Linked DNA regions of Homo sapiens. The protein of the gene in region 1 purifies or fractionates together with the protein of each later gene. This does not show direct contact. Each region holds a gene or a part of one and is shown in the gene's direction. Other genes may lie near its edges.

Region 1 (3,809 bases):
CTCAGGAGGCTTTTTTTTTTTTTTTTTTTGAGACAGAGTCTCGCTCTGTCACCCAGGCTGGAGTGCAATGGCGCGATCTCGGCTCACTGCAACCTCTGCCTTCTGGGTTCAAGTGATTCTCCTGCCTCAGCCTCCTGAGTAGCTGGGATTACAGGCACCCGCCACCACGCCCAGCTAGTTTTTGTATTTTTAGTGGAGACGAGGTTTCACCAAGTTGGTCAGGCTGGTCTCGAACTCCTGACCTTGTGATCCACCCACCTCAGCCTCCCAAAGTGCTGGGATTACAGGCATGAGTCACCACGCCCGGCCTTGGGAGGATTTTTATAGCAGTTTGACCATTGTTGCACAGCTTCTTAGGAAGCAAGCATCTTACCCTGTCAGATGGCACCCTGTTCATTTCCAGCTACCATGGGCAGCCAATTCCAGAGCAGGATGGAAGGCTGGTGGCCTCTGGCTAAGACTTGCTAACCTGGGGACAGGGTAAGTTGACCAACTCATCAGGGTTTGCCTGGGACTTTGCTGGTTTTAGCACTGAAAGTCACATGTCTCAAGAACCCCCTCAATCCTGGGCAGACCAGGACAGGTGGTCACCTAATACAAGCTGTGGTGCAGTCTGCCTGGAAGCACAGAGGGAACAATGTCCTGGCTTCACAGTGAGACCTGGGCAGGTTACTCCCTCTGCCTATAAAATGGGGGCAGGAATATACAATGCTTTTCTCTCAGACTTGATAGCAGAGCTGAGGCCAGACTCCCTTAGTTCTTTGTTTTGCCCAGAATAGTCCCACATAGGGAAGAATCTGCCACATCCATTGTGGACTTTTTGGTGTATTTTCAGAAGGTGTGTGGTGACTGAAACCCATCTCCAACATCACATCTTTCTGCAGAGTAGTTTGGTGCTGTTTGAAATGGTGGATTTTCCAAGTAACAGAAACAGTGGGCCTGGGTAGATTAGGGAGCTTGGCTTCAGAGGCCAGGGTGCATACTTGGGTGAGGAAGTAAATCTGTAACCCAGGAGCCACCCTGACAGGTGCTCAGCCAGAGGAAGGCTGTCCTGAGAGGCAGAAATGGCCATGTCCCCTCACCCTCCTCTGCTCAGCTGCCTTTGGCTCAGCTGCTGTTAGGGGAGCAGCAGGAGACAGCTGCACCTTGGGGGCTGAATGAAGCCTGGAGGAGGGGGACAGAATGTGAGGCAGTTCCTGAGGGAAGCTCAGGCTGACACTGTGGGTGTCGCTTCCTTGGCACACCCACTGCCGGCAAAGTCATCTAGTTCCAGAGGTCTCCACAGTGGCTGTTTCTGGGAATTTGGGTCGGTAGGTCTGAGACCAAGCACCAGCTTTCTAGAGATGGTGTCTAGCTGGAGAAGCTGACTCCACAGGTGGTGGCGGCTTGGTCATTCCAATGTCAATTTAATCTAAGGCATTACTCTGGTATTCTCTGTCCTCCCATCTCTCTACACCTATTACACATGCACACTCCAAATCCTTTGGAGGGAAGGCATTTGAAATAGTCACAGTTGACAGTTACTGGTTTGATGTTGATAATTTTCTTATTAATGGAGATAATAGCTACCATTCATTTAGTGATCATGTTAAGTGCATTAGTGGGTTTTCATAGTAACCTATGAGTGGATTTATTCTCCCTATTTCACAGATGAAGAAATTGAGGCTCAGAGTTTGTTCATCAAAGCTGGAAGCATTTTAAGGAGCAGTCTGTCCCAGGGAGTCAACTATATGGTATAGAAACCCTTCTTCTATAGCCACGTCTCCCTGGAAAATACTTCTCAATATTTCAGCAGCACCTTTAGATATCAAGAATTGTGAAGGGAAAGGTTTTAGTGAGAGTAACATCTGTGTCTTTGTATGTGAACCACGGGGCTGGGAGGTGGGTGTGAGCTTGTGAGCAGCCAGGATGAAGGGCAAGTGAAGGGTCAATGAAGCGCAGAGCCTCAAGGCTTGTCTGGGCTCTAAAATCAGAATGGAAAACTAATCAATGAGTCCTTTTAGTCAATCCATATTGATCAGCCATCTCCTGGGGGCAGAGGCCTGGACACCCAGAAAAACATCACATCACATGTTTGCTGATTTGAAGTGAGCAGAGGTTAAAAGAAAAGACATAGTCCCTGCCCTTGAGGAGCTTGTGGTGAATTTGGTAGAGAAAAGTATACAGATGGGTCACTTGAAAGGGTGTGGACATCAAAGGACAAAGCAAAGTCCAATGAAATGAGTCAGCAAAGCTTCCAGCATGGAGGCATATGGAGGGTAAAAGCCAGGGAAAGACAGATTTTGGCTCAGTATAGTGAAGACTTTGGTAACTTGGCAGCCCAAAGGTTGAAGGGCAGTTGTTAGAATCAGTGAATTTTTGGCCATCGGAGGTATGTATTCGAGCAGAGGCTGGGAAGGCAGGGGAGCCTTCAGACATCTGGTGAGTAGTCACATTAGGAGGTTTGTAAGTCCTTTCCAACCCTGAGCTCCTATGGCCCTGCCCTGTTCACGGAGGGTGTTGGAAGGACTGTCTGCCCTATCAGAGTGGCTGGCTTCTAGCACCCTGCCAGCTCTGGAACTGCCCCTCTTTGCAGCCATTCAGCAGGTGCCAGGAAACACAGTGTTCCCCAGCCTTGCCACCCACACCTTATGCCTGCCCCCAGGATCATGGGACACATGGCAGCAGCTGGGGGAAGATTTGGGCTTAATGTATTTTGGTTTATTGCCTTTGTCCACCACAGACCTTGTTGGACAGACTTGCTGAGGTTTCCTTGAAAGACACAACCCAGTGATAGCCTTTGGTCCAAGGACTCTCTGACTGTATCGTCAGTGACTCATCTATCTCACTGGGGAAGGGATGTACAATTAGTTCTTGCGCCACTTTAGGGAAACTTAGCTACTGAAAGGCAGAAGTGGCCATTGCTAGTCATGCAGATCTGAAATCCTGATTTCCTGTGGTAATTGCTCTTTATTATCGGCTTTGAACCTGGGCCCTGGGATGGCCCACATGCAGCCTCCTTGCTTAGGTCCTGTGCCATACAACCTGCACCTATGGGTGGGCAGGAAAGACCTAGTGGAGGGGGCCAGGACATATCATGTTGGCCTGACCTAAGCAACGGAGCCCAAGACAGCAGGCTAGAGCTATGGTGGCTGAGCTGAGTTTCCCAGCTAGACACTCCCCTAGACACTTGGCTCAGATACCATGCCCTAGCAGTGCCTGGGGAGTTGTACTGTAGTCAAGGCCATCAATGCCTGGTGGGATGTTGAATTTTGAGGGAGAACTAGCGCTCCAAGAGTTAAGCCATGCTGAAGCAGAGTTGGCCAGGCCACCTGCTGGCTGGAGATGAGGAAGAGCACTCGGTAAATCCCCAGTGACTGACGCAAGGGCTGCTGTATCTTGGCCCTGCAGGTATTAGACCCTGCCTCCATCACACAGAATGTAAGAGCTAGACTTGGGAGAAGTCCAGTCTTCTCTTTCAGTGGGGGAAACAGAGGCCCAGAGAGGGCAAGGGACTTTCAGGCAGTGAGATAATAGCCAAGTTGGCATGGGACTTGTGCCCAGGCCAAGTTCTCTCAGAGCTCTCCGAATGCTGCAGTAGGTTAGCATGCAGGGCTTGTGCAGGTGGGATGGCTCAAAGTCAGTCTTCAGCTTTTATTTCACCCAGCATGCCTCATGTTAGGCCTGTGGTACAGTGATTAGAAAGAGATTAGACCCCAATATTCTTGGCTTAGAGCTAAGTTCCGTGGTCCCAGGACTTGCTTGGGGCCTCACTTTCCTCAAGGCAAGCTGGTACCAACCTGCTGCCTGGGCAGCAGGTGCCAGAGAAG
Region 2 (3,246 bases), on another chromosome or scaffold:
ACATGGAGAAACCCCGCCTCTGCTAAAAGTACAAAATTAGCCAGGCGTGGTGGCAGGAGCCTGTAATTCCAGCTACTCAGGAGACTGAGGCAGGAGAATCGCTTGAACCCAGGAGGCGGAGGTTGCGGTGAGCCTGAACCCAGGAGGCGGAGGTTGCGGTGAGCCGAGATCGCGCCATTGCACTCTAGCCTGGGCAACAAGAGCGAAACTCTGTCTCAACAAAACAGAATTTCCATGCCGAAGGGTGGACTTGGGTGTGAAGGATGGGCCTTGGTTTTCTGCAGGTGTCTACCCCGTGGTGGGCCACGCCCACTGTGCCCCCAGCTCCCCAGCCCATAGTACTGAGCACAGCCGGGAGGCATGGGAGGGGCTGGAGTCCCCTTGGTCCCCCTGGAGGAGGTGGGCCTGGGCAGGTTCCTGGCAGAGGGACCGCACAGGCTCTCAGGGCAAGTGGTCAAGCAGCCCTGGCCGCGGTGGTTCTACTGGTACAGCCTCTGGGCCACAGCCTGATTGTGAGGGTGCTGGGGAGCCAAGGAGGGCTCTGGGAAGTAGGCATCCTGCTTAGACTCGCATCGGGAAGAGCAGGCCGTGGCTTCAGGGATGCAGGACTGGAGATGCTGCTGACTAGGGGTCAGGGTGTCCGTCTCTGAGGGCCTGATGGGGGGCTGGACTGACAGCAAAGTTCACCCACCCTGTGGCAGGGCCCGTGGCTCCCTGTCTCTGATTCTGGAGGTGAGCCAGGCCTCTTACCTGCCGCTGCAAAGGACAAGGCCCAGGGAGGCAGTCAGCTTGGGGCGTGATGGAGTGAAGTTGGAACGTGCCCTGGGGTGGGGGAGGCGTTGCCCAGCCTGGCTGGCAGATTCCTCTCAGCCCGGGCCAAGGGCCGGGCCTGTCTCCTTCACAAGCCGGCGGAAACCGGGGCTGGAAACCCCAGACCCGCCACTTCCCTCAGAGGCGCAGCCGCGGCCGCCGCCGGAAATGGGCCATCAGGAAGGGGTCTGCGGGAGGTGAGGGGCTAGAGGGCAAGGAAGCAGCTGGGTAAGGTCGGTCTGGGGTGAGTCCCCCCGGAGGTGGGGAGGCCTTGGGGGTGGGGCATGGAAGCCCCCAGTTCTGTCCCTGCCCCTGTATGTTGGGTACATCTCAGAGGGCGGCCTCTACCCTGCAGGCCTCCGGCTGGCCTTGGTTCATGGCACCCGACAGCCCCTCCTGCGGCGAGCCAGGGCTCCCCCACCCCCTGGTCATCTTCCCAGATGCCCCTCAGTCCCGTTTCTCCCCAGATCCACACCTGGCCCTCCCCCTCCTGTTCCAGAATGCAGCCCAGCCCCTCTGCCATCCTGTCCTCCTAGCCCGTGGTCTCCCTCCACACACGCCAGTCCAGGCTCCTTCCCTTGGTGCCTGACCCCTCCTGGCTGCCAGCAGCCCCCTTCTGGCCACTGCCCACTGAGGGAGGGGGCTTCCTCTTACCCCTCCCCAGCCTGGGCCACTGGGCCTGGTACTGAGGACCTCGCTGCCACCCCACCCCACTCTGCCATGCTACGGGGGGTGGGGGGGCGGTCAGTGCATGCTGTTCCTAGTCTGAAACTTGTGTCCTGTGGGTGCCTGGTGGGGAACCCTTGCGGGAAGGCCTGGTGGGTTTGTCCCTGCTTCCCAGCCAGCCTGTGTCCCCGGGTATGGGCTGGGGTCTGGCATGGGCCTCTGCAGCTGGCCACAGACTGAGGGGCTCCAAACAGCACTGGGAACAGCCTCAGGGTATCTGGTTGGGGGCTGCAGACAGGGGTGGGGTCTTCTGCTTGGCCTTGACAGGTTGCAGGCAGGTTGTCAGCCGGATCTGCAATCTCATGGGGGCTTGGGGTCTTCCCGGCTCACGAGGTTATGGCAGAATTCAGCTCCTGGTGGCTGGGGACTGGGTCCCACCTCCCTGCTGGCTGTTGGCCCTTCCCAGCATGGCGGTTGCTTCCCCTTCAGGGCCAGCAGGACTGGCCTGAATTTCTCCCTTTCTGGCGTTGAAACACCCTCTGGAGGGCTTCGTGATCGGGCCATGCCCGCCTAGGATGCTCTCCCTTCTGATGAGCTCAAGTCACCGGTTAGGGTCCTTAATCACATCGACAACACCCACCCCACCTGGCGAGTACAACGTGATCAGGGAAGGGATGCCCTGCTGCGGGAGGGGCCACGGGCGTGCACACCAGGTGGGAATCCGGGTGGGAGAGGGCATCCCAGAGTCCTGCCTACTGGAGGGCTGGAGGGAGCAGAGTGGAGAGGGTGGGTTGGAGGGTGGTAGAAGGGCCAGGGGGCCAGCGGGGCCAGCGTGGGTGACTCAGCAGACCCTGTCTCAACCCGTAGGTCTGGAGTGGGACTGACTGGCTCCAGACAGACCATGTTCTACACAGAGGTGACAGATGCCCAGCGTAGCGGTCCAGGTGGGGGCCTGGTGGAGGAGGGTGAGCTCATTGAGGTGGTGCACCTGCCCCTGGAAGGCGCCCAGGCCTTTGCAGACGACCCGGACATCCCCAAGACCCTCGGCGTCATCTTTGGTGTCTCATGGTTCCTCAGCCAGGTGGCCCCCAACCTGGATCTCCAGTGAGACTCCAGGGTTCTAGACAGAGGCCAGTCTTGGCCACTCACCCCACACCCCGCGGACCCCAATAAAGGCTTGCATAGCTCCAGCTTCTGCCTGCTGGTTCTGAGCTCTGTGACCAGGGCCTTGGAGAGGACTGGGGAAGGGGCGGGAAGCAGTGACCCTGACCTGAGATGGCCCTCGGGACACGGCGAGCTCTCCTGTAGGAGGAGTAGCTGGTGGCAGGCCATGCAGGTGGTTGCTGTGGGGCTGAGGACAGGCCTGGGGATGCCATGGGCAGGGCCAGGCTGTGCCTCCTCTTGGAGCTGGGAGGGGTGGGGTCCGGGACTCATGGAGGGTGGCATGGCAGGCCTGGGGGTGGGCCTGCTGGTCACGGGGCTGCAGCATGAGCTGTGCTCACGAGAGTGGTGGCTGAGCCAGTCCTCAGGAGTTAGGATGGGGTGGGCAGCACTGCAGGCTGCACGCTGCAGGGAAAGTATGTTCCCTGCTCCTGGGGCAAGTGAGGGGTCCCCACCCTGACTGGGGCTGGGCTAGAGCCACTCCACAGGAGCCCGGAGCCAAAGCTGCCCTGTGTCGGGGGCCCCAGTAGCTGATCCGTGCACCCCCAGCCTTGGAAGTTTTCCAAGGGACCTTCCTCGGCCTGTGGGGTATGCAGAAATGTCTGCAGG

The links.
Region 2: the proteins of SEPTIN4 (region 1) and NUDT14 purify together in Homo sapiens (affinity purification with mass spectrometry; one large-scale study listed by BioGRID and IntAct). This does not show direct contact.

Annotation. Positions count from the first base shown.
Region 1 is NC_000017.11:58,534,050-58,537,858, reverse strand, and holds part of SEPTIN4 (septin-4), read left to right. Parts: intron 1-403; coding exon of another isoform or gene 404-480; intron 481-1,650; coding exon of another isoform or gene 1,651-1,654; exon of another isoform or gene 1,655-3,809. UniProt on the Homo sapiens protein: Filament-forming cytoskeletal GTPase. Pro-apoptotic protein involved in LGR5-positive intestinal stem cell and Paneth cell expansion in the intestines, via its interaction with XIAP. May also play a role in the regulation of cell fate in the intestine.
Region 2 is NC_000014.9:105,172,359-105,175,604, reverse strand, and holds the end of NUDT14 (uridine diphosphate glucose pyrophosphatase NUDT14), read left to right. Parts: exon of another isoform or gene 1-117; intron 118-2,343; coding exon 2,344-2,584; 3' UTR 2,585-2,666; downstream 2,667-3,246. UniProt on the Homo sapiens protein: Hydrolyzes UDP-glucose to glucose 1-phosphate and UMP and ADP-ribose to ribose 5-phosphate and AMP. The physiological substrate is probably UDP-glucose. Poor activity on other substrates such as ADP-glucose, CDP-glucose, GDP-glucose and GDP-mannose.